Linked DNA regions of Homo sapiens: regions 2, 3 and 4 are each reported to be linked to region 1. Evidence: microRNA targets listed by miRTarBase, many of them from high-throughput screens and not tested one by one. Region 1 holds a microRNA gene; each other region holds the end of a gene's coding sequence.
Evidence for each region. Region 1 holds the annotated microRNA hsa-miR-186-3p (GCCCAAAGGUGAAUUUUUUGGG, at 3,295-3,316, shown strand). A microRNA usually pairs through its seed, bases 2 to 8, with sites in the 3' UTR of a target mRNA and lowers its output. Matches are read on the target gene's strand: a 7mer-m8 pairs with bases 2 to 8, a 7mer-A1 pairs with bases 2 to 7 and ends in A, and an 8mer does both.

Region 2: the mRNA of DNAAF3 is a reported target of hsa-miR-186-3p. The part of its 3' UTR that is shown has no 7-base or 8-base seed match.
Region 3: the mRNA of DIS3 is a reported target of hsa-miR-186-3p. Seed matches in the 3' UTR shown: 7mer-A1 at 1,362-1,368, 7mer-A1 at 1,724-1,730, 7mer-A1 at 2,911-2,917 and 7mer-A1 at 5,664-5,670.
Region 4: the mRNA of SEC14L4 is a reported target of hsa-miR-186-3p. Seed matches in the 3' UTR shown: 7mer-A1 at 5,437-5,443.

The regions. Positions count from the first base shown.
Region 1 is chr1:71,063,841-71,070,957 of GRCh38, reverse strand. MIR186 (microRNA 186) reads left to right here and starts at 3,242; the gene lies at 3,242-3,327. It overlaps ZRANB2 (zinc finger RANBP2-type containing 2), which reads left to right. Exons shown (of 10, transcript NM_203350.3): 7 at 1-131; 8 at 1,596-1,682; 9 at 4,024-4,182; 10 at 5,821-7,117. The coding sequence ends at 5,884. It overlaps ZRANB2-AS1 (ZRANB2 antisense RNA 1), which reads right to left. Exons shown (of 3, transcript NR_038420.1): 3 at 3,774-4,192. RefSeq lists a silencer at 2,406-2,455.
Region 2 is chr19:55,153,377-55,160,493 of GRCh38, reverse strand. DNAAF3 (dynein axonemal assembly factor 3) reads left to right here. Exons shown (of 12, transcript NM_001256715.2): 10 at 481-595; 11 at 887-961; 12 at 1,045-1,829. The coding sequence ends at 1,432. TNNI3 (troponin I3, cardiac type) reads left to right here and starts at 2,762. Exons shown (of 8, transcript NM_000363.5): 1 at 2,762-2,915; 2 at 3,186-3,198; 3 at 3,361-3,444; 4 at 3,850-3,891; 5 at 4,162-4,293; 6 at 5,664-5,753; 7 at 6,288-6,464. The coding sequence starts at 2,905. DNAAF3-AS1 (DNAAF3 antisense RNA 1) reads right to left here and starts at 1,185. Exons shown (of 4, transcript XR_007067345.1): 1 at 1,049-1,185. RefSeq lists an enhancer at 2,984-3,571.
Region 3 is chr13:72,753,483-72,760,599 of GRCh38, reverse strand. It overlaps DIS3 (DIS3 exosome endoribonuclease and 3''-5'' exoribonuclease), which reads left to right. Exons shown (of 21, transcript NM_014953.5): 20 at 1-71; 21 at 722-7,117. The coding sequence ends at 805. BORA (BORA aurora kinase A activator) reads right to left here. Exons shown (of 12, transcript NM_024808.5): 11 at 6,779-6,910; 12 at 4,404-5,449. The coding sequence ends at 5,384. Among named protein-coding and RNA genes, the nearest start is that of DIS3, 25 kb to the left of the region's middle.
Region 4 is chr22:30,484,060-30,491,176 of GRCh38, forward strand. It overlaps SEC14L4 (SEC14 like lipid binding 4), which reads right to left. Exons shown (of 12, transcript NM_174977.4): 12 at 4,843-6,187. The coding sequence ends at 6,048. LOC107985579 (a long non-coding RNA gene) reads left to right here. Exons shown (of 3, transcript XR_001755490.2): 3 at 1,688-2,325. Among named protein-coding and RNA genes, the nearest start is that of SEC14L3, 16 kb to the left of the region's middle.

The sequences.
Region 1 (7,117 bases):
CTTGATGCCAGTGAAGAAGAAGATAGTAATAAAAAGAAATCTAATAGACGAAGTCGCTCAAAGTCTCGATCTTCACATTCACGATCTTCATCACGCTCATCCTCCCCCTCAAGTTCAAGGTCTAGGTCCAGGTAAACGGGTACAGGTCAAGGGTAACACCAGTCAAAATGTCAGTATCTAACTTTTTTATTTATAAATTTTGTTTTTCTTGACGAAATAAACTTTCCTTTTTATTTTAAAAATTTAATTCAAATCAACTTTTAAAATAATTTTTCAGCTTAGTACCATACAGTTGTTGTCCAGTATTTTTAGAAAAGTAAAGTCTTAGCATGAAACTTCCTTAACCTATTTTAGCCTCATGCTTTTGACTAAAATAGACTTAAAAACTGAATTAAATTTTTATATACACTTATATTTAATTAATCTAAAGAGATAGCTTACATATAGAAATTAAGTAAAGGGGAGATCTGTATTTTCATTCAAGATGTTAAAGGCTAGCACAGAAATTTTCTAGGCATTAAATCATTGCTTATTACATAATGTTTTTAATAGTTTGCTTTGATATCAGTATTGTGAATAACGGAGCAAATTCAGCCATATTAGTTCTGTTGACTTCATGCTCATAATTTTGAGAAGTCCAGGCGTAAACTAAAACTCTTTTGGTGTACTTGAATATTGTTTGTTGATGTAAAATATGTAATCTCTGATTTTATAGTTAACAATAAAAATAAAATTTTAGGTGAGTGAAAGCAGTGATTTAAATTTAACAGTGTCCTCTTGAAAAACCTTAATCACAGTTAAGTGATGGCATGGGCAATGAATTTTAATCATATTTAGGAATAAAATACTAGATATTAGTGTATAACAATTAGATATATGTTAATTGAGCACTACAAAGCCTGAAAGCTTAACAAAGTGGGGCTATAACTAGTAATTTTTTGGTAAAAATATAGTGATCTTTTTCTACAGGGTATTATTATAAGGGACAAATTATAGTTGTAAATTAGATTAATGAATTTTGTGAGTTTTAAAATTTGTACGAACCATGTCTCCCTTGTGTCATATTTTCCAATAATATAATTACCTAACAATGACAGAATTATACATTTTCCCTTTAATTCTCTAAGCATTGAGTAAACAGAAAAATATAGGGATGAAATACACACATGCCAACATTCAAAACTTTGTACTAACTAGAAACAAAAATAGAAGGGGATTTATAAAGGAAAATGATGGAGACATTTTAGAGAAATTAAGTATAAATCGCAACATTCTGTTTTCTTGGATGTATTCTGGGTAGCTTCTAGTTACTTGTAAACAAAGTATTCATTGTTTTTGTAATAAAGTGATAATGTTTTGTTTTATAGTTGAGTGGCTTTAGGGTAATTTAATCACCTGGAAAGTGATATTTTTTTAATTACCTTTTGTTACTAAATCTTATCTAATTTAAAATACTATGTTTTGAAAGTATATATCTTGTATAGTTATCTTTTTATATGAAAATGAACTCTAATACATATCTTTCTTTCAGTGTTCATATCACAAAGCTCAATTAAATGGTCCTGGAAAAAAAAAATCGTTCCATGTTGTTCCAGGTCCCGTTCAAGAAGTTCTTCCAGTTCGCAGTCAAGATCTCGTTCCAGTTCCAGAGAACGTTCGAGATCTCGTGGGTCGAAATCAAGGTGAATGAGGTAGCATCTCTCTGTAAAGCAGAGAGAAAAATATTTAAAGGCTGCAGAAGGTGTTGCTGCTTTTTTTCCCCTTATTTTGCTTCTACTTGTCGATTTTATTTTAGCATTAGAAAACTAATGCACTTGCCTCAGCTTAATTTTCTCACCATGAAATGTTTCCATTGCCAGCAGTGTGCCAAGACATTCCCATGATTGAAATCAGGTGGCTATTTTGCAATATGCAGCGTTTATTATTTTGGCACTAAGATGTTATGAAGTAGGAAGATGAAGCCAAGTCTTATCGCCACATCTCTAGTATATTAAGATTATATATGGCCAGGCACAGTGATTCATGCCTATAATCCCAGCACTTTGGGAAGCTGAGGTGGGAGGATCACTTGAGGCCAGGAGTTCAAGGTTGTAGTGAACCTTGATCACAGCACTGTAATCCAGCCTGGGTGACAGAGGAGTGTCTCAAAAAAAAAAAAAATTAATAGTAGTTCAAATAAAATTACATATGTAAATAAAAAGAAAAATTTTCTTCATTATTAAAAGGAAGAAAAATAACCCTGCCTCAAAACAGGTCCTGTTTTGCACGGCAGTTGTTTCAATATTTTCAGAAACAAATTTGCCATTTATATCAGATAAAGTTACTAGAGTACTGTATATACATTTTCCTTTCTAATTTTACACACGCTATTATTTATAGAGCACAAAACACTCAAAACTAAATCAGGAAGTATAGTCGGTTAGTTGAGATAGGATGTGGTCTTAAGTAGTAAACAGTGTTCTAAAGTTTCAGGTTGCATGTAGTCACATCTGTAGAGGGAAACATAATTTGAAAGATGCTCTTGCAGGAAATTTTTCTTTGTTTAGTCAAAATATGCTCTCTTTGTTTTTAAGTTAATTTATTATGACCTAAAGGCATCTAAAAAATAAATAAGAAAATGAAATTCCATATTTGTGGAAATTCATATTGAAGTCTAACTGTGGCTGTTTTGGTAAAAGTATTTGCTGCTTTGAATCAAATTTAGCATTAAAGGGCTGCCACAGTATAATCATGTTAAGGAGAAAAGAATGTTGTGCACACTTGCATTATAAGCCAATAAGAAATAGATAACAAGGCCAGGCTCAGTGGCTCACGCCTGTAATCCCAATACCTTGGGAGGCCAAGGTGGGCGGGCTGCTTGAGCCCAGGAGTTCAAGACCAGCCTGGGCAATATAGTGAGACCTCGTCTACTAAAAATAAAAATTAAAACAACCAGCCAGGCATGGTGGTGTGTTCTTATAGGCTGAGGTGGAAGGATCACTGGAGCCCTGGAGATTAAGGGTGCAGTGAGCCATGCTTATGCTACTGCACCACAGCCTGGGGAACAGAGCAAGATCCTGTCTCAAAAAAAAAAAAAAAAATAGAAGTAGAGAGCAAATTATTTTTTATTGTTACCATTATTTAGTAACAATATTTAAGCGCTTTATAGGTAAAAATCCTTAAGTTCTGGTATTCCCTTTGGGAACCATTATAATTAAGGTTTACAGAACACCCATCATATTCTTCCCAAACATTTTTTCATTGCTTGTAACTTTCCAAAGAATTCTCCTTTTGGGCTTTCTGGTTTTATTTTAAGCCCAAAGGTGAATTTTTTGGGAAGTTTGAGCTAAATTCCTTCAACCAAAATATACAAGTGAAGAAAAAAAATTTGTATTTAAACATTTGCACATTTACTTCTACCTGAAGCATGTGAATGTCAACACTTCATATTTCATAAGTAGTGGGTTTTCATAAAAATAGTATTGTAAATATAAATCATCTTAAAGTTAGTTTTTATTTCTTCTTGAATATTTAGCAGTTAAGTACAGTTACTAGTCTTTTGTTGCTGTGCCATATACCTGGTTTTTCCATAACAGTTTAATGAGTTGAATAATTCCACATGGAATTATGTTTATTTTCCTCAGGAAGTGGTATATAAGATACATATTTTAATCCTCAAATGGAAGGATGTAGTTCCTAAACGTAAAGTCCTGTTAATGCAGTTATCTGCTGATTTTATAATACTATAATATTTGTGTATACTTTGAAAAGCCTTAAAAAAAGTTTAAATTCTATTTTGATATAGTAAGCAGGGTTTTAATTACACATGATAGAATTTTAAAGAGACAAAATTAAAATGTTTAAGTAGAATGTTTTCATGGTTGATCCAGAAGTCTTCTGTTGAATAAGCAGTAAGTATTCTTCCTTATAAAATTTTCATAGTTGTTATAAATCCTGTTTATTTTTGGAGCTATCTGATAACTAAATAATCTTCCTTATTTCTTCTTTTAATGAAATGTTTGATTTGTTTCTCAATCAATGAAGATCCAGCTCCAGGTCCCACAGGGGCTCTTCTTCCCCACGAAAAAGATCTTATTCAAGTTCATCATCTTCTCCTGAGAGGAACAGAAAGAGAAGTCGTTCTAGATCTTCTTCATCTGGTGATCGCAAAAAAAGACGAACAAGATCACGGTCACCCGAAAGGTTTGGGTTTCTGTAGAAATAAGAATGGGTGTTCTTAAGTGTGTTTAATAGATAAAGTAAACTTTCCTAGTCAAGGGTTAGATTTTTATTATCTCTTGTGTTCCGACTTTCTACTTTTCAACTTTGAACTTCAAAAAAACATTACTTTGCTTATCCTTTGTACTTTGATCAGGTTGTTTAGAATTGTAGATCAAACCATTCTTTGATCATTTTATTGTTTAAATTTTTAGTTCCATTTATAATTTTTATAGCCAACTCTCGGTTATTTCTGTCTTTTGAGATTGCAATTCAGAAGCTGTATGTCGAAGTAATTTATGAGTTGACTTTTATACTTAGGCTTCTTTAAATACTAATAGTCAAGAATTCTAGAGCATCTAATAAAAAATTAACTTTCAGATCATTGGGAATCTGTCCTCATTTAAATATGTGTAAATGCATTTCCACAGCAAATTGCTTCATGCCCTTTGTCTATAAGGAAATTATTCCTTGTAGCTAATACATTTTTCATTTTGCAGTCCAAATCTTTTTTGAGAAAGGCCTATATTAGGTTACTTTATCTGTACTGACACTTTTAATATTGGAAGAATGCAACTGTCATCTGTCAGCCTTTTCTGCAACAGGCTAATTACTCAGTTTCATTAATTTTCTCTTTGTTCCCAATTATATAGTCATTTTAATGGCTTTATTTGTAGTCTTTGCAAATTTTTCATATTTTATTAGCTTGTGAAAATAAAGATTATGTAAAGTCTATTAATTGCTGGGTTCAGTGGTAGGATTATCTCATGATTCCTACTTGTACAGAATGATTAGTTTTGCTTCTTCACATTTTGGAGTTTAGATGTTAAGATTTCACACAGTCTTGTTTCTCTGCATTTGTTTCTTTGTAAAAAAAATTACTCTGTTTTTGAGTGGAATTCATTCTGTTGCTTTCTTACCACTTCTGCAAATTTTTATCTTAGCCACATATAATCCCCCTAGTTTGTTGTCATCTAAACTTAATGAACATGTTCTCTATTCCATAAGCCAGGTGATTGGTGAAAACACTAAACAACCCTGAGCCCAGGGCCAACCCCTACGGAACACCACTACTTTACCCAGGTTGATATTGACTTATTCATACTAGCTGCATGAATATAACCCTATAGCAAATTGTACAATCATCTTGTGTGACCTAGATTTCCAAAACTTATTTATGAGTATATTTTCTCATACACAGAAGCCTTGCTGTATCTTTTTTACATAATAGACTTCTTACACTTTCTACACCGTGTCACAGGGATTGGTTTAGTCACACTTCCATTACCAAGTTTATATGCTTTTGTTGTACATTTTCTGTAATTTTACACATTTTTGCAAGGCTTTTCTTTGATATCTTAAATAATTGAGAGGTGGCTATATTTTGAAATGAGATTCTTTTGAAATTGTAGAGAATTTTTTATTGTATTTATATGATAACTGGGCTCATATCCAAAGTCTAAACATCAGATAATTTTATGTGTGTAAGTTCCTATCTCAATTTTTAATTTTTTTGCTAGCATCATGGTACTGAATTTTGTATACTTTCACAGTCTTAAGAATGAATGCTGAGATTTAGCTCTAGCTTACTAGAATGCCTACTCTCTCCATTATGTCTTACAGACGCCACAGGTCATCATCTGGATCATCCCATTCTGGTTCCCGTTCAAGTTCAAAAAAGAAATAATGTATTAAAATTTACATCTTAAAAAAATCCAGTACAGTGCATGAAGCATATTTTTAAAGAAGTTGGTGTCTTACTTGGTCAGAAGTGCTAAATCTGCTAGTAGAGGTGCATGCCTTTCATTGCTTTTCAAAACAATACAGCTGTGTTTATTTGTGAAGTTAAAAGTAAATAGCATTTTAAGCCATAATGTCCCAAAATAGATGTTCTGTCATTCATTATTTACAACCATTTGCTTCATTTAAAACCATTTCAGCTATAACAAAGTACTTTGCTTCCTAATTTAAACCCATTTTTGTCATTTCCAAATACATCCTGTCCATTGGCTAAGACAGGATTACCTAGGCTTGCCTGAACTTTGGGCATGGAAGAAAGACTGGAAACTAGTTGGAAACAACATACTTATGGAAAAGAAAGTCAGCCTTTTTATGCTGTTAACAGATGTCAGAGTGATTCTCACCAAAAAAAGTTAAACTATGTTGTAAGCAGCCAACTGTAAATGTCTATTTTGAAATTCCCTATGCTAAGGGTGCCTTAGAATCATTGTGTCTCTTTTATCCAGCTTTACTTTTTTGCTCCACATTTAATGCAAAAGAATCTTGTGATGTCTACAAGGAGAGAAGTGGGATATATTTTCCTTTCTGACACATAATTTGGGGCAAAAAAGAAAGTCTTAAGAGTTTATCTTTTCTCTGCTGATACGGTTGCTTGATAAAGACATCTCAAAATGTTTACCAATGTTTTAAGAAGCTTTGTGTGATATTCTTCCAAATGTAGTTACCAAATATAATATGGTAGAAAAGGCTAAATCATACTTAATGAGCAAATTGAAGTAAGCTTTTAAAGTATATTTCTCTTTTGGTGAAAGGCCAATGGAGACATTGTGAATTTAAGTGAACATTTGCCTCAAGATGTTAACTATAAACACACTGCATACAATTTTCTTCTGAATAACAAATGAATGCTTATTGCTGCATGATGTAAGCAAAAGTCATTATTTTTCCTATTCATTTGAAATAAGTTATGGCTTAAAATGCTTTTGGAGTTTATTTCTCAAAATTAAAATCTGGTCACATGAGCTTTAGTTTGTTTTCTGGTTTAAAAAATAAAAAGGTTTCTCTTAACAGTATTTCCAGTGACAATGCAAGGTAAGTATATCAAAGGAAATCAACAGTTGTGCTTGGGGGCTTTTTGTTATGGGATATTGATTTCTTGTTTTTTTTCCGTAACATTGTC
Region 2 (7,117 bases), not on the chromosome of region 1:
TAAATTCTGAGAGCATGCTTAGAATTCTGAATTCCACTAGCAGAATTCTAATCTTATCTGCAGAGGGCTAAGCTATCCAAGAATATTCTCACAGGGTGCTGGGTCCCAGCTCCCCCTTGGACAGCCTCCCACACCCTGGATCCTGGCTGGGCCTCCTTCCAGCCATCCTCCAACCTGGCCCTCCCTGCGTGTCTGTCTGACAGGGCATGTCACATGTGGCCCTGGCCACCCACCCTCTTTCCCTCTCTAGAGTCTCAGTTGCCTGATCTGTACAGTGAGTCTCTGCCTGCCAGGCTGACCTTCCCAGAACTTTCCAGGAGCCTACCTTAGAGGATTTTTTAAAAAGCTGCAAGAGGACAAAAAGTGTTATCTCCAAGTCCTGTGTGCCTGCCCAGCTCTGCCCAGCTCTGTGTATCTCTCTGGTTTTCCGCCCTTATGGCTCCGCCTGTCAGAGGTGACCCCTCTATCCCCTTCCCCCAGCAGCCCCGACCCCGGAATCTTTCACCGTCCACTTCCTGCCGCTCAATTCTGCTCAGACTCTCCACCACAAGAGCTGCTACAACGGCCGATTCCAGCTCCTCTATGTGGCCTGTGGGTAAGCGGGGAGGCAGCTGTGCTCACAAAGACCCAGGATCAGGCCCCCAGCCCCTCCTCCCTCAGACCCAGGAGTCCAGGCCCCCAGCCCCTCCTTGCTTAGACCCAGGGGTCCAGGCCCCCAGCCCCTCCTCCCTCAGACCCAGGAGTCCAGACCTCCTGCTCCCTTCTTTCCCCAGGACCCAGACTCCAGTTTTGCCACCCCTCCTCCCTCATTGTCTGGGATCCCAGAGCCCCATCCTCCCTCCGGATTTGGAGCTGAATCTCAGCCTGTCCTCCGTCCTCTCTGCAGTATGGTCCATCTTCTCATCCCTGAGCTTGGGGCCTGTGTGGCACCCGGAGGGAACTTGATTGTGGAATTAGCCCGGTGAGTCAGTGGGGTGGAGGGTGGGGAACATCCTGGCTGGGGATCAAAATCTGGGTCCCTGACAGGGCGCTTCCCATCTGCAGGTACCTGGTGGACGTGCGGCAGGAGCAGCTGCAGGGATTCAACACCCGGGTCAGGGAGCTAGCTCAGGCAGCTGGATTTGCTCCACAGACCGGGGCCAGGCCTTCAGAGACCTTCGCACGTTTCTGCAAGTCCCAGGAATCAGCTCTGGGCAACACTGTCCCAGCTGTGGAACCCGGAACTCCGCCCCTTGACATCCTGGCCCAGCCTCTTGAAGCCAGCAACCCAGCCCTTGAGGGCCTGACCCAGCCTCTGCAGGGTGGGACCCCACACTGTGAGCCCTGCCAGCTGCCCTCTGAGTCTCCAGGTTCACTCTCAGAGGTTCTGGCTCAGCCTCAGGGGGCCTTGGCTCCGCCCAACTGTGAGTCAGACTCCAAAACTGGAGTCTGACCCAACCCCTAGACACCCCTTATCTCCAACTTCCAAAGTCAGGTTGTAGGATGAGAACCCGCTGATACCATTCTAAGTCCGCTGCTAGAGTCCTCAATTTTATTCTAATCATTCCCACTCAGTACCCGCCACCCCCACCCCGGGAGTGTTGGTAGACTTTCAAATTCCATTTCTGAGATTCTATGGTCTATTCCTAGAATTCTAGATTGTTCTCTCAGAATTCCAAATTCCACTTCTGAGGCTCTAAGCCCAGCCTAGGATCTGACACTGAGTCTCAGGCCCTTGACTTTGGCCCCCTTGTTCCCAGGCACCCTGTGGCTGACTAGGGGCTGGGGTGTCTCCTCACCAGGGCCTGGTCAGCACCCAGATGGTTCAAGTAAAGCAAGTTGTGTCCACCCTTCTGTGTGTCCAAGCGTCTTTCCTGTCCTATGTCCGTCTCCAGGGCTGGGAGAGAAAGGCCCAGGAGTGCTGGACAGAGGAAGCCAGAAACCAGATTCCTGGGTTTCCAAGTGGACGAGGGATGGATTTCCCAGTGCTATTGACTGAGAGCTAGCCCCGAGCACAGCTGCATCCTCAAATTAATCAACAACATTTATTGAGTGGCCTGGACTCCTGGGTCTGAGGGGAGAGGGATTGGGGTCCTGGACTCCTCGGTCTGAGGGGAGAGGGATTGGGGTCCTGGACTCCTGGTCTGAGGGAGGAGGAGCTGAGGGTGCAGACTCTTGAGTCTGAGAGAGGAAGTGTGCTGGGGGCCTGCCTGGACTCCCTTGTCTGAGGGAGGGGCTGGGGGCCTGGACCCCTGGGTCTGAGGGAGGAGGGGCTGGGGGCCTGGACTCCTGGGTCTGAGGGAGGAGGGGCTGGGGCCTGGACTCTTGGGTCTGAGGGAGGAGGGGCTGGGGCCTGGACTCTTGGGTCTGAGGGAAGAGGAGCTGGGGGCCTGGACTCTTGGGTCTGAGGGAGGAGGGGCTGGGGGCCTGGACTCTTGGGTCTGAGGGAAGAGGAGCTGGGGGCCCAGACACTTGAGTCTGAGGGAAAAGGGGGCTGGGGGCCTGGACTCCTTGTGTGAGGGAGTGGCCAGGGTCTCCCAGGGTCCTGGGACTGAGGGAGGAGGAGGTTGGGAGGTCGGGCATTCTCTGGGTCTGAGGGAGGAGGGGTCTAGGACTCCAGGATCAGAGGGAGGAGGGTCCGGATTCCTGTGCCCGGAGGTGGCTGGTGATCCAGCTGGAGCAGGGCCCACCCCGCCCCTCACGCGCCCCCGTTATCTGGCATAGTGGGCAGGGGGAGGAGGAGGTGACAGTATATTTAGTCTGTGTCCTCGCCCTTTATCTCAGTGTCCTCGGGGAGTCTCAAGCAGCCCGGAGGAGACTGACGGTCCCTGGGACCCTGAAGGTCACCCGGGCGGCCCCCTCACTGACCCTCCAAACGCCCCTGTCCTCGCCCTGCCTCCTGCCATTCCCGGCCTGAGTCTCAGCATGGCGGATGGGTGAGTGATGCCCCAAGGCAGTGGGAGTTGGGGGCGACCTCCCGGGTTCCCAAGAGGGGTCGCAGCTGAGAGGCTGGACCCTTGGCCTGCGAGGTAGGCGTAGGGACTCTTGGGTGAAGAGAGGAAGTGGGTTTGCGAGTCAGACTCCTGGAACCCAAGGAAGGGGAAGCGCGGTCCCCCGACCTCTTGTTCAGAGGGGACTCCAGGGGTCCCTTAGGAGACAGGACACAGCCCACCACTAACCCCCCTCCTTGGTTTCTCTCCTTCCAGGAGCAGCGATGCGGTGAGAGCAGCGGGCTAAGGCGTGGCTGGGACCCCCAGGGCCAGGGTGGGCGCTGCAGTGAGGGGTCTGGGGCGGGAGGCTGCAGCCCTAGCAGAGGGTGCGGTACGGTAAGGGCTGGGTGGGGTCTTGGTGGTGATGGGGTCCCCACTCCTCCTAACCCAGGCTAGGGAACCTCGCCCTGCACCAGCCCCAATCAGACGCCGCTCCTCCAACTACCGCGCTTATGCCACGGAGCCGCACGCCAAGGTGGGACGGGGCTTCCTGGGGGCAGAGTACAGGCGCCGGAGGGATCCAAGACCCTGGGAGTGGGGGGAGGAGCCAGGGCTGCGAAGGGGGCGGGGACTACGCGGAGGGGCTTCAGGGGCGGAGTTTTGCAGAGGGTCATGCTCGGATTGGTGACAGCAGCCTGCGGGCGGAACTCCGTTGCCCTCGGACTTGCTTAGGGATAGATGGGAAGTGCCTATCCAAAGGAAGAGACCCAGATTGGTGGATGGGAATGAGGGGCGTGGCCTCCCGTAGACTCAGGGCTCAAGTTGGACGTGGGCCCAAATCTGGACCGGCTGGGTTTGCTGGGGGTGTCTTGAGGTCCCCTCCACCGTCGTCTCCGAATCCCCCTCCATGATCCTTCCTTGCTCCATCTCACCCTGGCAGAAAAAATCTAAGATCTCCGCCTCGAGAAAATTGCAGCTGAAGGTGAGGACGGGCGGGACTGGGAAAGAGCAGGCAGGTGCTCAGGGGGCGGAGCTTGAGAATGGGTGGGGCTTTCGGGGTAGGTGGGCGGAAGTGGGCGGGGTTTGGCCGCTCGGGGCGTGGCTTTAGCGGGGAGTACTGCTCGGGGTGGGACGGGGCCTTGGAACAGTGGAGACCAAACTGGAGGGTTTAGAAGGGCAGAGGCGGTTCCCCACGCCTGGTCTTTATCCTGAAGCCCCGGGTGGGCTGCGCTTCCCTCCCACCCCTCTGCAGACTCTGCTGCTGCAGATTGCAAAGCAAGAGCTGGAGCGAGAGGCGGAGGAGCGGCGCGGAGAGAAGGGGCGCGCTCTGAGCACCCGCTGCCAGCCGCTGGAGTTGGCCGGGCTGGGCTTCGCGGAGCTGCAGGTACCGGCTCCCAAGGATGCGAGGTTTCTAGTCCCGGAATTCAGCAGTACAGCCTCTATCCCCTCTTCTGCTCGGGACCCAGGCGTCCAATATGGCTGTCCTTACCCAATTATATATGGTTCGTGGGACTCCTGGCCCCTAACACCCTTTGTGTGCAGGTCTGTGGAGTCTTGGCTCCAACCTACTCCTTCAGGACCATGTGGCCCTCCTATCCCAGACAGAAGCCCAAGCCCCAGCCCCTCCTCCCTCAGACCCTGGAGTCCAGGCCCCAGCCCCTCCTCCCTCAGACCCAGGAGTCCAGTCCCCAGCCCCTCCTCCCTGAGACCCTGAAGTCCAGGCCCCAGCCCCTCCTCCCTCAGACCCTGGAGTCCAGGCCCCAGCCCCTCCTCCCTCAGACCCTGGAGTCCAGGCCCCAGCCCCTCCTCCCTCAGACCCTGGAGTCCAGGCCCCCAGCCCCTCCTCCCTCAGACCCTGGAGTCCAGGCCCCAGCCCCTCCTCCCTCAGACCCAGGAGTCCAGTCCCCAGCCCCTCCTCCCTCAGACCCTGGAATCGAGGCCCTCAGCCCCTCCTCCCTCAGACCCTGAAGTCCAGGCCCCAGCCCCTCCTCCCTCAGACCCTGAAGTCCAGGCCCCAGCCCCTCCTCCCTCAGACCCTGAAGTCCAGGCCCCAGCCCCTCCTCCCTCAGACCCAGGAGTCCAGTCCCCAGCCCCTCCTCCCTCAGACCCTGGAGTCCAGGCCCCAGCCCCTCCTCCCTCAGACCCTGGAGTCCAGGCCCCAGCCTCTCCTCCCTGAGACCCTGGAGTCCAGGCCCCAGCCTCTCCTCCCTCAGACCCTGGAGTCCAGGCCCCAGCCCCTCCTCCCTCAGACCCTGGAGTCCAGGCCCCAGCTCCTCCTCCCTCAGACCCTGGAGTCCAGGCCCCAGCCCCTCCTCCCTCAGACCCTGGAGTCCAGGCCCCAGCCCCTCCTCCCTCAGACCCAGGAGTCCAGTCCCCAGCCCCTCCTCCCTCAGACCCTGAAGTCCAGGCCCCAGCCCCTCCTCCCTCAGACCCAGGAGTCCAGTCCCCAGCCCCTCCTCCCTCAGACCCAGGAGTCCAGTCCCCAGCCCCTCCTCCCTCAGACCCTGGAATCGAGGCCCTCAGCCCCTCCTCCCTCAGACCCAGGAGTCCAGGCCCCCAGCCCCTTCTCCTCCCTCAAACCCAGGAGTCCAGGCCCCCAACTCCTCCCTCAGACCCAGGAGTCCAGGCCCCCAGCCCCTTCTCCTCCCTCAGACCCAGGAGTCCAGGCCCCGAGCCCCTTCTCCCTCAGACCCAGGAGTCCAGGTCTCCCTGTTTTTGGTTCCCCCAACAACACACACCACGTTCCTCCTCCAGGACTTGTGCCGACAGCTCCACGCCCGTGTGGACAAGGTGGATGAAGAGAGATACGACATAGAGGCAAAAGTCACCAAGAACATCACGGAGGTGGGACGCATGGGCAGCTCGGGTACCTTCGGGGTAGGGTGAGATGGCTGGGACTTGGTCTCTGCCTGACCCCTTGCAGCTGCTTTTGGCTGCACATCCCAGGAGACCCAGGACAACTGTGAGCCTGGCAGGGCTGGGGCAGAAGGATGAGTACAATATAGTCAAGGAAAGCTGTTCTAGGCAGAGGGAACAGCACATGCAAGGCCATGGGTTGGGAAACAGAAAATAAGTTAGTGAACATGCTCAGGGCATCACATGTTGGTAAATTAGCTCAGGCACTGGCCAGGGAATTGTGATTTGCATGTAGCTGGACCAGGTTATGCCAGTGGTTTTGAGAGGTGAGGCTGGAGCATATGAGGAGGGGGATTCAGTTCCAGGATTAGAAGCCTAGACTGGGAGCCTAAGCCGGGAAGAGACTGGTAAGGCCTCGGTACTGGAAGACGAGATAAGGAGAATAAAAAAGGAGTGTAGGATGGAGGAGTTGGGTGTGCGGGAAATGGAAGGAGAAGTACCCACCCCCTCGTGTGCCCCCAGATTGCAGATCTGACTCAGAAGATCTTTGACCTTCGAGGCAAGTTTAAGCGGCCCACCCTGCGGAGAGTGAGGATCTCTGCAGATGCCATGATGCAGGCGCTGCTGGGGGCCCGGGCTAAGGAGTCCCTGGACCTGCGGGCCCACCTCAAGCAGGTGAAGAAGGAGGACACCGAGAAGGTGAGTGTGGGCTAAGGCCAGGAAAGAGGATGCTGAGGGGAAGGGCTGTGGGTGCCAACAACCCTAGGCCTGAGGGCAGATGGTGCTTGGAGTTGGAGGTAGAAGCAGCTAGTAAGGGGTCCTCAGAAATGCAAGAGGAAGACAGGAAGTAGAAGGGGAAGACAGGAAGTGCATTAGGGCTACAGGAAGTCCATGTAAGAGCAAAGAGGTACATGAAGGTCCAGGTGCAGTGGCTTATGCCTGTAATCTTTGAGGTTTAAAAAAAATTTTTTTTTAATTTCCTTTTTTTTTTTTTTTTGCGATGGAGTCTCTGCTGCCCAGGCTGGAGTGCAATGACACCATCTCGGTTGCTGGAGTGCAGTGACACCATCTCGGCTCACTGCAACCTCTGCCTCCCAGGATCAAGTGATTCTCATGCCTCAGCCTCCCGAGTAGCTGGGACTACAGGTGCACACCACCATGTTGTTGTTTTAATTTCTACAAATTTCTTTTTTAAATTAGCCAGTCACGGTGGTGGCATGCAGCTTCTCAGGAGGCTGAGGCAGGAAAATCGCTTGAGCCCATGAGATCGAGGGTGCAGTGAGCTATGACTGCACCACTGCACTCCAGCCTGGGCAATACAGTGAGACCCTATCTTAAAGAAGAAGACAGGA
Region 3 (7,117 bases), not on the chromosome of region 1:
AAGTGAAAATCATGTTAGACTCATCTAATCTTCAACATCAGAAGATCCGAATGTCCCTGGTAGAACCACAGGTAAGGCCAAACTTAAAATTTCCTTGTTGTGATGGAACAAACAGTACATATTTTGTCAAAGAAGGGACGTAGTTATTTCTGTTTAATGTTAGAGGGAACCCTGTAAGTAGTGTAGAAACCAAATATTTGCATAGCAAATCCTGTTTTCTCACTGATTTCTTTAGGCCACGGGATTCTAGACATCTGAGATTCTGTTCAGGTCTTTGGTGCTAAAATAAAAAGGTCTTCCATTCTCCTGCCTAGTCTTTTCTATCTAGAAGTTTTGAACTCTGCATTTTGAAGATGAAGTGTAGGTGTTTCACCTAAGATACTGGTTCTTAACTTTTGTCCTTCCCCAACACACTTGAAATCAACTCTGATTCTGTCAATCACAGTGGCTCCCCATTGGGAAGGCTGTTTTGTAGTTAAAAAGAACACTTCCTAAATGACATGCTTCTCACCTGTTGAGACCATGTCTAGCTTTTACATTTTTGAACCACTGCTACTTTGTAAAATACCTTCTGTGTATAAAACCTTTAATTAGCCCCCTTTCCCCTCCCTACCACTACATCCTTTTAAATTTGAAGCTGGCAGTGGGGAAGGGGAGGATGAGGTTGAGATGTATTCTATCCTTTAAATCACCTTATTTCCCCCCATTTGCATTACTTTAGATACCAGGAATAAGCATTCCTACTGATACTTCAAACATGGACCTTAATGGACCAAAGAAAAAGAAGATGAAGCTTGGAAAATAGCTATATTCAACAAAAATCTTCAAAGACTGGTTTCTTTTTTAAAAGAAAAAACTTGAAAGAACACTTCTAAGCCTAAGTGTGTGATACAGTTTGTTACTTTTAAGTACATTTTAATAATTTCAGACATCTGCATTTTTATTGAACAGTTGACTGTATCTGACCCATCATACTACTATACTTCTGGGTTGAACAGAATTATTTATGCAGAATAATTCAATTGAATATCCATCACTTAAATACAGTGACAGGACAGCAACTTCAGGGATCTGTAAAGATCATTTAAATGGAGTGCTCATCTCATTGAGGAGCAGATTAATTTTGCGTAAGTACTTTGATTATTTAATATTTGTAAGAAAAAACTTTCATTTTCCTACAGAGGAAAATAGAACAATTTTAGAAGCAAGGAACAATCTCTTTTCTAAGTCTTGGAAGCTGTCAGTGTTGAGGATGTAATCTCCTTTGCCATCTTTAATTCACCTAACTTACACTAGGTGTTCTCTTACTGTCTTTAAAAGCTTCCTGTATTTTATTAGTGGTCCTTGAAAAACTGTGAATGTTTGGGAATTGGTAGAAAGGCAAAAAGTAGGATATTTTGACCTGACTGGAAAGATGGTTGTGTTTTTATTGCCAGGTAATAAGTGTGATCATTGTTGAACTTCAGCTCCAGTGTCTCTCCAGAATAAGACATTGGCATTCAAATGTCTATATCTTGTTACTTACAAAATAAAAAACAGATTAATTAGTGGCTTTTAAATTGTAGTTATATCAGTGTATATACACGAGGGGAACTGTATAAAGACATACTAAAGGGAACAGATTAAAATAAGTATTATTAATAAAATTTGGTGTGCCAGACTGACTACTTCCCTTGCTAATCACAGAGATTAGTAATGATTAAATTAATATCTTCAGGAATATTTTGGGATAGGGTTGCCTTAAAACATTTTACTTGGCTTATTCAATTTCTAAAGCACTTACGTTGTGCCAGGTTCCACTCAAGTAAATTATCTCTGCCTTCAAGGAGCTTGCAGTATAGTGAGAAAAGCCTGCCAAGTAAATCAGCAGGTATACTAAATAGGTAGTCATTTAGGCACTCAATAAATGTTGACTAATTTTTCCAGTTTCCTATTACTGAGGAAAACCTCCATACACTGAGGCAGAAACTTGTGTCAGTTGGAGGAAAATAGACTTGAGTAGTCTTTGGTCCAGGTAAAATGGGTCAGTGACACTGAAACAGTAGAGTAGGAGTCAAAAAACCTTTTCTGTGAAGTGCTAGAACATTTTAGACTTTGTTGGCTATGGTCTGTATTGCAACTATAGTACACAACTCTGCCGTTGATAGTGTGTAAGGAGCCATATACAATATGTAAACAAATCAACATGACTGTGTTTCAACAAGGCCTGATTTGTTAAGTTTCATATATAGTCATATGTCACTTAATGACAGGGATATGTTCTGAGACATGTCACTTGGCAATTTCATCATTGTGTGAAAATCATGATGTAGTTACACAAACCTAGATGGTATACCCTATGGTATCCTATATGGGATAGCCTATTGCTCCTAACCTACAAACCTGTATGGCATATTACTGTACTGATTACTGTAGGCGGTTGTAACACAGTGCTAAGTATTTGTGTATCTAAACATATCTAAACATAGAAAAGGTACAGTAAAAATATATATATAGATATATATAAGATATAAAATGGTACACCTATTTAGGACATTTACCATGAACAAGTTGGCAGGACTGGAAGCTGGCTCTGGGTGAGTCAGTAAGTGGTTAGTGAATGTGAAGGCCATGATATTACTGTGCACTACTGTAGACTTTTATAAACACTATATACTTAGGCTACATAAAGTAATTTCACTATGATGTTACCATGGCTGTGTCCCCAGGCAATAGGAATTTTTCAGCTCCATTGTAATCTTACGGGATCATCATCGTATATTTGGCCATTGTTGACCAAAAGTTATGCAGCACATCATTATAATTTTGATGTGTCACAAAACATTACTCATTTGATTTCCCCCACCCCCGCCAACCATTTAAAAAAGTTTGCCGGCTAGGTGCGGTGGCTCATGCCTGTAATCCTAGCATTTTGGGAGGACGAGGCGGGTGGATCACTCGATGTCAGGAGTTTGAGACCAGCCTGGCCAACATGGTAAAACGCCGTCTCTACTAAAAATACAAAAACTTAGCTGGGTGTAACGGCGGATGCCTGTAATCCCAGCTACTTGGGAGGCTGAGGCAGGAGAATCGCTTGAACCTGGGAGGCGGAAGTTGCAGTGAGCCGAGATTGCACCACTGCAGTTCAGCCTGGATGATGAGAGTGAGACTCCATCGCAAAAAAAAAAAAAAAAAAAGAAAAGAAAATTAGCCAGGTGTGGTGGCAAGTGCCTTTAATCCCACCTCAGGAGGCTGAGGCAGGAGAATCGCTTGAACCTGGGAGGCAGAGGTTGCAGTGAGCCAAGATCGCGCCACTGCACTCCAGCCTGGGTGACAGAACAAGACTGTCTCAAAAAAAAAAAAAGAGAAGAAAAACTGCCTACAGGCCATAGTTAACCTGCAATAGAGAAGAAAGGGAAGTAGGGCAGTGCATGACTGGCCTTAGGTTTTTTCTTTCCAAGTTTATTTTCTTGTGCTTCAGCTACTAGAAAGGTTTAATTCAGGGATAAGTCCCAATTGAGTAGTTCAAGATGATCAGAGACTTTGCTATTTTCCCCTAAGTTCTATTCCATAATCTAAAATGTTCTGTTTCTAGTGCCAGTTCTTATGCTAAGCAGGTTACGTGGAATATATCACTTAACTCAAAAAGCCCTGTTAAGCCAGGACTGTTATCTCCATTTAACAGATGAGAAAATGGAGGTTTATGGTCTGTTCTCACACTGCTACGAAGAAATACCCCAAACTGGGTAATTATTATAAAGGAAAGAGGTTTAATGGACTCAGTTCCGCATTGCTGGTGAGGCCTCAGGACACTTACACAATCATGGCAGAAAAAGGAGAAGCAGGCACCTTTTTCACAGGGCGGCAGGATGAAAATGACTGCCAGCAGTGGAAATGCCAGACGCTTATAAAACCTTCAGATCTCATGAGACCGGCTCACTATCACAGGAACAGCATGGAGGAAACCGCCCCCATGATCCAGTTACCTCCACCTGGTCCCACCCTTGACACGTGGGGATTGCTACAATTCAAGGTTAGATTTGGGTGAGGACACAGAGCCATACCATATCAGCCCAGATCAAGTAGTGACAGAGTAGGGATTTGAATACAGGTTATAGTCACTATTGTGTTATTTCTTGACTTTTGTACTATTAAAAAACTGTAGCCAGTGAGGCTTCTACCCTTAGTACCCAGAACTCCTTTTAGGTATAGCAATTGTTTTTAGGTAAATTTATATTGAGTTTAACACCTGTGTGATTAAAGACAACTTTCCAATGTAGTATCTGTAGCCATGTCCCCTAATGGCTATTAGTGTTCATGGTTAGTGTGTTGAAGATGAGCCAGGTACATAACGCGGCACATTTTCTGCAGGTCAGCAGTAAGGTTTCAAGGTACAGTTATGGAGGAAAGAAGAAAATGACACATTGATAACACAGGTCTTTATTCCCTTTTGAATGAGACAGTTTTTAAAAGTTGATTTATAAATACAAAAATACATTCTCCAAAGATAGTATTTCCAAACTGTTATATACCCATCTACTCCCAACATGGATATAAGTTTTTTAAAAAAATAGTTGTATATAACATACATATCTGCCCCAGTGTTACTTCACAGGCCTATGCCCTACGGGAACTCCACTCTCCCAGCCCCACTTTTTCTCTTGGTTCTCCCACATTCTTATTCTCCCACATCCCTACCCACGTTTGAGCTGGAAAGGATGTCCCTACCCTAGGCATGAGGTATATTTTATTCTGGGCACCACACATTTGCCCCATAGATAACAATACACGTGATGATGTCACTAGTACTACCTTTCTAGTATTTACATACTTAAAAGTAGTAACTAGAACAGTTATCACTGGAACTAAGAATTTTCCCCACAGAGGTGAACAGACCAAGAACTAAAATTTCAGGAAACCTGTTTAATTTCTTTTGTATCTTTGAAAAGTTAGTTTTATATCTAAGATTTCTTCACATAGGTTATAATTCATCTGTATGTTCAAGCTTTTATGTAAAAATATATAGTGCCTTCAGTTTTAACATAGTTTCACATGTTCTCAGAACTGCTAAATTCAGTGCTACCAGTAAGGCTTAATAAGTAGTTCATTGACCCTGTAAGATAGGAGCACTCAGCTCTGTCACAATTTGTTGTTAAACACATCACTCAATGTAAGTATAAAAATATTTATTGATAAAAAATAAACTTATAATTCAGCAACTTGAAGTTCCAGGAGCATTTCTGTTGTTCCTATGTCAGTAAGCCCTTGATTTTTCACATTAAGGAGGGAAAGCTAAGCATGTTACTTGAAGTAATTTTTTCCCAGTCACCATCATGTTGATCCTGTGCACAACGATATATGCGAGGAACTCTTAAGCTTAGTCTTTGATTCTGACAGAGGCATTCTATGGACTGCTGCATTGAAAAGGGCTTGCTGTTTTCATCCAACACCTCTGTGTTGTGTGGTCTTGCTGTGAAAAAGAAGACAATACCTTGTTTTCAGTTTAAGTAGGACCACTGGAGGATGCAATTATCGGGACTGTTTTTAAAACCTAAAAGCACGTTTCTTTAGCTGAACTCTGAAGGGACAGTAAAGATACAGTATTTTATAAATCAATATTCTGCATCAAAAAGCATCCCAACACTTTGAGAGGCCAAGGTGGGAGGATCGCACGAGCCCAGGAGTTTGGGACTAGCCCTGGCAACATAGTGAGACCCTGTCTCTACCAAAAATTTTAAAAAGCTGGGTGTGGTGGCACATGCCTGTAGCCCTAGCTACTCAGGAGGCTGAGGTGGTAAGACTGCTTGAGTCTGGGAGGTGAAGGCTACAGTGAGCTGTGGTCGTGCCACTACACTCTAGCCTGGGTGACAGAATGAGACCTTGTCTCAAAAAAAATAAAATAATAAAATTTAAAAAAATCCTTCATTTATCTCTACTTATGTTTAGATAGACAACTGCATCCTGAAATAGGATGGATTTTGTTCAGGTTAATATTAGAAGAGACCTGCTCTGATACTACATACAACAGAAAGGCAGTTTGCTCCTACTACATACAACAGAAAGGAAAACTAAGGTGGCCTCCCTATTAAACATTTGTTGCACATTTGCTGATATTTATAGTATTTTATAAGAAACTGGCATATAACAGCAGGGCAAGGTGGTTCACACCTGTAGTTCTAGCTACTCAGGAGGGTGAGGCAGGAGGATTGCTTGAGCCCAGCAGTTAAAGGCTGTAGTGATCTGATTCTACGACTGCACTCCAGCCCGGGTGACAGAGTAAGACCCTGTCTCAAAAAAAAAAAAAAAGAAAAAAAAGAAACGGCATACAAGGCTGGGCATGTTGGCTCATGCCTGTAATCGCGCAGCACTTTGCGAGGCTGAGGCAGAAAGACTGCTTGACACCAGGAGTTTGAGACCAGCCTGGGCAACACAGCAGGCCCTGTCTCTACAAAAAAATAAAATGCAAAAAAAATTGGCACATAAAATTAAAGACTGTCCTGACTAGTGCCTGAAATTATGATGAGTTTCTTCAAGTATGAATATATAACCACCACCTGGAAGGTTCAGTAAATGCCCTCATCAAATACACGCTACCTTTGCACACTTTGTAGTATGTAAGATACTTGTGTATTCAGAGTAACCAAAATATTTAAAGGTTATTGGATGTTAAGAAAACAGGCTTACCTTTTAGTGTTTTAAATTTCATATAGTTTCTCAATAGTACTATTGTCTAATAATCAAAATTATTTTATATTTCTAATCTAAACAATATTAAGCTTTCACTATATTTTCTCCGTACCTTCATATTAAATGCTTGAGATTTACTCTCAACTTCACATGTTTGTGCATCACTTTCTTTGCAGTAACTTTCTGCCCCAACTGTATCCATAATATTGCTTCCACAATTCTGCGTATTATAGCCACTATCCATCTGACAGGAGAAAAAAGAAAAAAATATATTGTGAGGAACTTAAAAGTCAAATATTTAAATAAGTAAACCACTATAAACTCTCATTCACTACATCTGAATGATCCTAACATGTAATATTGATCATGTTGAACAAAATTCAAAAGTAATGCACAAATATAAAAGGTAGTCCTGCATAGTACTGATTATTGTAGTCATTTTACAATTCCT
Region 4 (7,117 bases), not on the chromosome of region 1:
CCTGGGTGTGGACGGTCCAGGGAAGCACATGGCTCTGGTGGTAAATGGTCCAGGAAGGCACATGGAGTCTCTGGAGTCAGACATCCTGAGTTCCAACCCTGGTGCCACCACTGAGCAAATGTCTGTTTCTGAGCCTTACTTTCCTCTCCTGTAAAACAGGAATAATTATGTTTATTTTATTATTTTATTTTATTTTATTTTAAGACAGAGTCTCACTCTGTCACCAGGCTGGAGTGCAGTGGCGCGATCTCGGATCACTGCAACCTCCACCTCCCCGGTTCAAGCAATTCTCCTGCCTCAACCTCCCGAGTAGCTGGGATTACAGGTGTGTGCCACTATGCCCAGCTAATTTTTGTATTTTTAGTAGTGGCGGGGTTTCACCATGTTGGCTAGGATGGTCTCGATCTCCTGACCTCATGATCCGCCCGCCTCGGCCTCCCAAAGTGCTGGGATTACTGGTGTGAGCCACCGCACCTGGTCTATGTTTATTTTATAAGGCTGCCATGAAGATTAAACAAAGTGGCATAGATAGAGCCACAAGCTTATGCAGGTGCTTAGTAAATGGTATCTGGTTTTTTTTTGGAACCTCTGGGAAGTGCAGCTGGGGTGTGGGGAAGGGACCCTAACTGATAGGGCCTGGGTGGCGGTGTGGCCTAGGGAAGGCCTTTCAAGACAGGGTTCCAGTGCCCTTGAGCGTGCATTTAACAAGGTTGGAGAGGGAGTCCTAGGCTGAAGGTACAGCATGAGCAAAGGCAGAGGGGCAGGAAAGAGCTTGATGAATTGGTGAATTTAAGTCATGGGATGTGTCTGGAACTGGGGTGCAGTGGCCAGGTTGCAGAGGGCCTTGCAAGCTACCACTGAGGCTGATTTTACCCAGGGGTACGTGGGGCACTAGAGAAGGGCTTATGCAGAGAATGATGTGATCAGATTTGCATTTCAGAAAGATTTTATTCTGGCTGCCCTGCGGAATCTGGACAGGAGTGGGTAGAAATGGGCACAGAGAGGGTACGGTGGCTCACACCTGTAACCCCAGCACTCTGGGAGGCCAAAGTGGGAGGATTGCTTGAGTCCAGGAGTTCAAGACCAGCCTGGGCTTCATAACAAAACCCTATCTCTACAAAAAATAAAAAATTAGCTAAACATGGTGGTGCACACCTGTAGTCCCTGCTACTCAGGAGGTGAGGTGGAAGGATCACCCGAGCCCAGGAGGTCGAGGCTACAGTGATGATTGTACCACTGCACTCCAGCCTGGGCAACAGAGTGACACCCTGTCTCAAAAAAAAAAGAAAAAGAAAAAGAAACGGAGCCTGCAAGTGACAGACCCAGGATCTAAAACGAGGTCAGGCTGCCTTTTTCCGCCACTCCAGGTGGCCCCACGAACAGCCTGGGCCTGGTGAACTTGGCTTCAACCGGCCTGGAAAGTAACCTTCCAATGAGCCCATGCTAAGGGCCACCCCAGTTCACGCTCCTGGTGGACAGGGGTGCGGCTGGCCCAACACTGCCCCCTGGTGGTTAAAAGCAGAAGTCCCCTGAGCATCGCTCAGTTTGGGCCGGGCCTCCTCCCTACCCGCACACCAAGTGTGCGGTCTGGTAGATGGACACAGATTCACGGCTTACCTCTCCCGCTTTGTGTTGTGTGATGTGATAATTCACTTCCTGCCCTGAGCCTCACTTTCCTCATCTGTAGGCTGCGGATGGTGCTTCCTGCCTCAGCTTGGGCCTGGCTCACAGTCGGTATTTGGGCATGGAGCTGGCACCATCACTTCCCACCGAGATGCACAAACGTCTGAGCAGCTTTCTCCCAATCCTGGGCCTTCCCTCCACCCCAGGAACCCAGCACCTCACTTTGTCCCACTGTGTGGCCCCCTGCCCCACACTGGCCTTCCCTGCAGGGGCCCACACGCCATCAACCCTCGTCTCCCCTACTGCAGGCTGGGGGCACCAGCGGCAGCTGACCTGGGTACTGGTTCACTGGACACAGAGGCTTTGGCCAAGGCACTGCCCCCTGCTGAGCTTCGGTTTCCTGGCCTGTAAAATGGGGCTATAATCTCTGTCTGCTTCAGGACTTAATGTGAAGCGGCTGTGCAAACTGTGGAGTGCTGTGCCATGAAGCTCTGGTGAAGACCTACTCTGAGCACCTGCCTAGACTTTCTTACAGTGGTGTCCTCCCTAGCTTGGGCTCCTTGGGCAGTGAGGTGGGCTGGGGCAGGTGAGCCTCTCCAACAGCCATTGAAACACCCGCAACCCTGGGGCCTGGGGTGGTGGCTCACGCCTGTAATTCCAACACTTTGGGAGGCCAAGGTGGGAGGACCACTTCAGGCCAGGAGTTCGAGACCAGTCTGGGCAACATAGTGAGACCCCATTTCCAAAAAAAAAAAATTAGCCAGGTGCAGTGGTGCACACCTGTGGTCCCAGCTACTCAGGATGCTGAGGCAAAAGGATGGTTTTTGCCGGAGTTCAAGGCTGCAGTGATCTATGACTGGGCCACTGCACTCCAGCCTGAGAAACAGAGTAAGACCCTATCTCAAAAAAAAAAAAAAAAAAAAAGGAAAACACGCCCATGGGTCCTTGACCTGCTGCCCTCCTCACCTGCTTCTCCCCAAAGACTGTGGGGACTTCCAGGGAGGAGATGGGCTAGGGAGAGCAGGTCCCACCTCCATTATCTGGACAGGTGAGGCCTGGGTATTTCCAATTGCCTCATTTTGAGCAAGAGTTTTGATCTGTGGCCTCCTGCCAAGATTTTGCCATTCTTTCCTGACAAACTACACGGCTGTTTTGTAACCGGCATTATAAAATGGTTTTATTAATTATTAATAACTATTTAATGTGTACACAGTTATCCATGAAGAAATAGGAAATACCAGTGAGTTGTTACCAGCGTTGCCCCAGGCTGGGAGAGCCCTTCCAGCTTTCCTTTGGCCTCTGACACCCCTGCCCCACTGACCGCCCACCCCCCATTCCTGTCTGGAAGGCTCGCCTGCCATCATCCCGCACATCCGACAGCTCTCCCTTCAGGGTCACCTCCTCCTTGGACAAAGCATACGTGACCCCTTGTCAGGTTTCTTGGCTGGGTGCTCCCCCAGAGTTTGGCTCCTGCCCCCAACCAAGCATGCATGGTGACAATGCACCCACTTGATAACTGATCACTGGTGTCACTTCCACCTCCCTCCCTCCATGAGCGCAAACCTCCGGTTAATACAGTTGGGTCAGCCCAGGGTCCTCGGTGTCCCCAGAGTCTGCCATGCCTGGTGCTGGGCAGATACTCAATAAACACCCAAAATCAGGCCGGGCTCAGTGGCTCACACCTGTGACCTCAGCACTTTGGGAAGCTGAGGCAGGGAGGATGGCTTGAGCCTAGAAGTTCAAGACCAGCCTGGGCAACATAGCAAGACCCCTGTCTCTACTTTTTTTTCTTTTTTTTTTTGAGACGGAATCTCGCTCTGTCGCCCAGGCTGGAGTGCAGTGGCGTGATCTCGCCTCACTGCAAGCTCCGCCTCCAGATTCACGTCATTCTCCTGCCTCAGCCCCTCGAGTAGCTGGGACTACAGGTGCCCGCCATCACGCCCAGCTAATTTTTTGTATTTTTAGTAGAGACAGGGTTTCACCGTGTTAGCCAGGATGGTCTCCATCTCCTGATCTCGTGATCTGCCCGCCTCGGCCTCCCAAAGTGCTGGGATTACAGGCGTGAGCCACCGCGCCCGGCCTGTCTCTACTTTTAAAAAATTAAATTAAATTAAATTAATATCAATGAGTGAATAAATGAAGAAACAAACTTTGGGCAAGCCACTGCCCCTCTCTGGGTGACTTTTTTTTTTCAGTTTTGTAAAAAAGTGACAGTGTTAAAAATTAGACATGGAGGCCAGGCATGGTGGCTCATACCTGTAATCCCAGCACTTTGGGAGGCTGAGCCAGGCAGATCACTTGAGGTCAGGGGTTTGAGATCAGCCTGGCCAACATGGTGAAACCCCATCTCTACTAAAAATACAAAAATCAGCCAGGTGTGGTGGTGCATGTCTGTAGTCCCAGCTACTCGGGAGGCTGAGGTGGGAGAATCGCTTGAACCTGGGAGGTGAATGTTGTAGTGAGCTGAGATCGCGCCACTGTACTCCAGTCTAGGCAACAGAGACTCTATCTCAGAAAAGAAAAGAAAAAAAATAATTGGAAATGGGTTGCTGAGGACATGTGCCCCTGCTCCCTGCTGAGCTCCCAGTGTGCCCCTCCCCTCCTGAATTGGTAGGAGATTCTGCTCTCACCTCTGCAGGCGATCACTGCTCACTGCAATTCAGTCACTAGTGCCTGCACCTGACCCCATTTTTGTTTGCCACCCCCGCAGCCAGCCCGTATTTGTGATCACGGCCCTGTGATCAGAGTCTCAGGAAACACTTGTGCATGGGGCAGAGCAATCCTTGCTGCCTGCAAGGAAACCAGACAAGGCTGTGCTGATGGAAAATCGGCTGTAGTTACATGGGCAAGAATCAGAGTTCAAGTCTAGGAACCCCTGGTTTTTAGGCAGAGGACATCAAGGCAGAGGATGTCAAAGCTGAAGTGAGGCATTACAATCCCCCATCATGACAACCGGTGGGCCTTGTGAAATTTAGCACAGGTCCTCCCGGCTCCAGTTGGCCACAGCCTGCCATGGAAGCCCAAGTGCCTCTGGGCACTCCAAATATCACTGCATCTGGGAAAGCAGCAGACAGCGTGGCCATGCAGTGCAACAGGGTAGTGGGGATGCCTGTCACATCTCCGATGCAGAGGCAGCCCCTGGACATGGGGATGTCCTGTGACTCTTGCCCGACAGCCCAGGCCATCTCCTTGGAGCCAGCGCAGCCATTTTTTTTTTTTTTTTTTTTTTTGCCAATCTGCTCAAACACCCAGTTGGAACAGGAATGCCTCGTGGCACTGGCTTTAGGAGTTTAATCTAGATGGTTTGCTGTTTCTAGCAGCAGAGCACCTGTTCAGACTCTACGTATATGCACCCATGAATGGTGCAGCTGCCAAGAGAACCAAAGCTAAATGTTGGCAGGATCACAGCAGGTGTGGAGGGGAGGTCACTGGGAATTCCCTGGAGACTCAGTCGTTACCCACTCAACTGGAAGGCTGAGCATGGCTTTTTCCTCTGATGGTTACCCATGCCAGGCCCCACCTCTCCATGTCCAATGTTCTTTCTTTATTTGTTTGTTTGTTTGTTTGTTTGTTTAGAGACGGAGTCTGGCTCTGTTGCCCAGGCTGGAGTGCAGTGGCACGATCTCAGCTCACTACAACCTCCGCCTCCTGGGTACAAGCGATTCTCCTGCCTCAGCCTCCTGAGTAGCTGGGATTACAGGTGCACGCCACCATGCCCGGCTAATTTTTGTATTTTTAGTAGAGACAGGGTTTCACCATGTTGCCCAGGCTGGTCCCGAACTCCTGATCTCAGGTGATCTGCCCAACTCAGCCTCCCAAACTGCTGGGATTATAGGCGTGAGCCACCACGCCCAGTCCATTTCCAATTTTCCATCCAGTGGTGGCAGAACAAACTTGGATGGGCCCCAGTGCTCTGCTGGAACCAGGACCCTCACCCAGCTGCCTCCAGCTGGGCCTGCCCACCCCTGCTGACCTCCTACATGCAGAGAACAGGGCTTCTCTGCTCTTCAGGCCTGAAGCTGTGATGTCCACAGGACCTAGGAACCACGCACACCCCCTGAAGCTGGAACACCAGGCATGGGTGAGTCCTGGGTGGCTGGATCTTGTCAAGATGGGTGAAAGGGCAGCTTCTGCAAGCAGGACCCATCCTCAGTGGACTGGATCATCTTCAGCGTTCTCATTCTCAGCCGCATTCTCTGGGAACAGGGAAAGAGGTTCCTGTCTGAATCTTCAGCATGGGCTATGCACTGGTGGCCCCTTCCTGCTTGGCCACTGTGCCAGGTGAGCCTACAATGAGATGAAATGGTGACGTGGGACAAGTGGCTCTCTGCAGCCACCTCCAGCACCACCCTGCCTGGGAAGGCAGGGGTCAGAGGGGTGGGTGTGAAGGGGTTGGAGTGCACAGGTAGAGGTGGCTGGGGTCTTCACTGTGTTGGGGAGGGTCTCATCGCCTTGAGACTCTGCAGCGTCTCCTCAGAGGCCTTGTCGGGAAGCAGCACCTCCACAGTGTAGCTGAGCTTCTTGGCATGCATCCGGCTGTAGGTGTTGTCGAAGCGCAGGACATCTGCAGTGATGGAGAGGTGATCAGGGAGCACAAACCCCGCACATCTGCAGGAAGAGCCAGCCCTGCATGGGTGCATCCCTGGAACCCTTGGGAATGAGCTGCATCCCTGGAACGTCCTGCATCCCTGGAACCCTTGGAAATGAGCTGTCCAGGACAGTGGGTGGGGCCTGAGGGCCAGCCTGTGCCCAGCCCTAAGCCCATTGCTCGCTGCCATCTCCATGGTGGCTTGCGCTACATGAAGGAATCATGATGGTCATCAGCATATAGAACAGCACACAGCCAGGGAGCAGGCGGCCTGGGAACGGGATCTCGAGCTCCACCTGCAGGGAGGAGCTGTGGCCCACGGACACAGTATGCTCGTACTGCGTCCTCGCCTAGTTGCGGTTGCACAGGTAGCTCTTGGGCCTCTCCATGAACCATGGATTCCATCACACATTATAGCCCCTGAATCCTCAAAGCAGCCCCATGTGGAAGGCAATGTCATCCTCATTTTACAGAGGAGAAAACTGAGGCTTGGAGAGGTGATATGATCTTTCAGCGGTCACAGAGCAAGGGAGGGGAGGTACTGGGATTCCTTTATCCAGATGTCCCAACCCAGGGAGGAGCCCTGCTACCCCAGGAGGAATGGGCTGGGCTACATAAGCCGCTTTCCGTCTCACAGAAGGCATGTCCTTCAATGCCAAGGTCCAACATGAACTCAGGTGTGATGAGTCGTGCAGACTTGTCTGTCTCTACTCTCCTAATGCTCCCTTTCCACAAAATGAAATAAGGTAATGTGTTGACTTAAGCATAAGCCACACCCTTCTCCTCCATAGGAAATCAACCTTGGGTTCCCCTTCTCCTAGCTCTGTTCCCAATAGATGTGGAAGGGCAGTGGTGTCCCTGAGCAATGCTACTTCTGGTAAAGCTGACTGAGCTGCATCTGGCCTG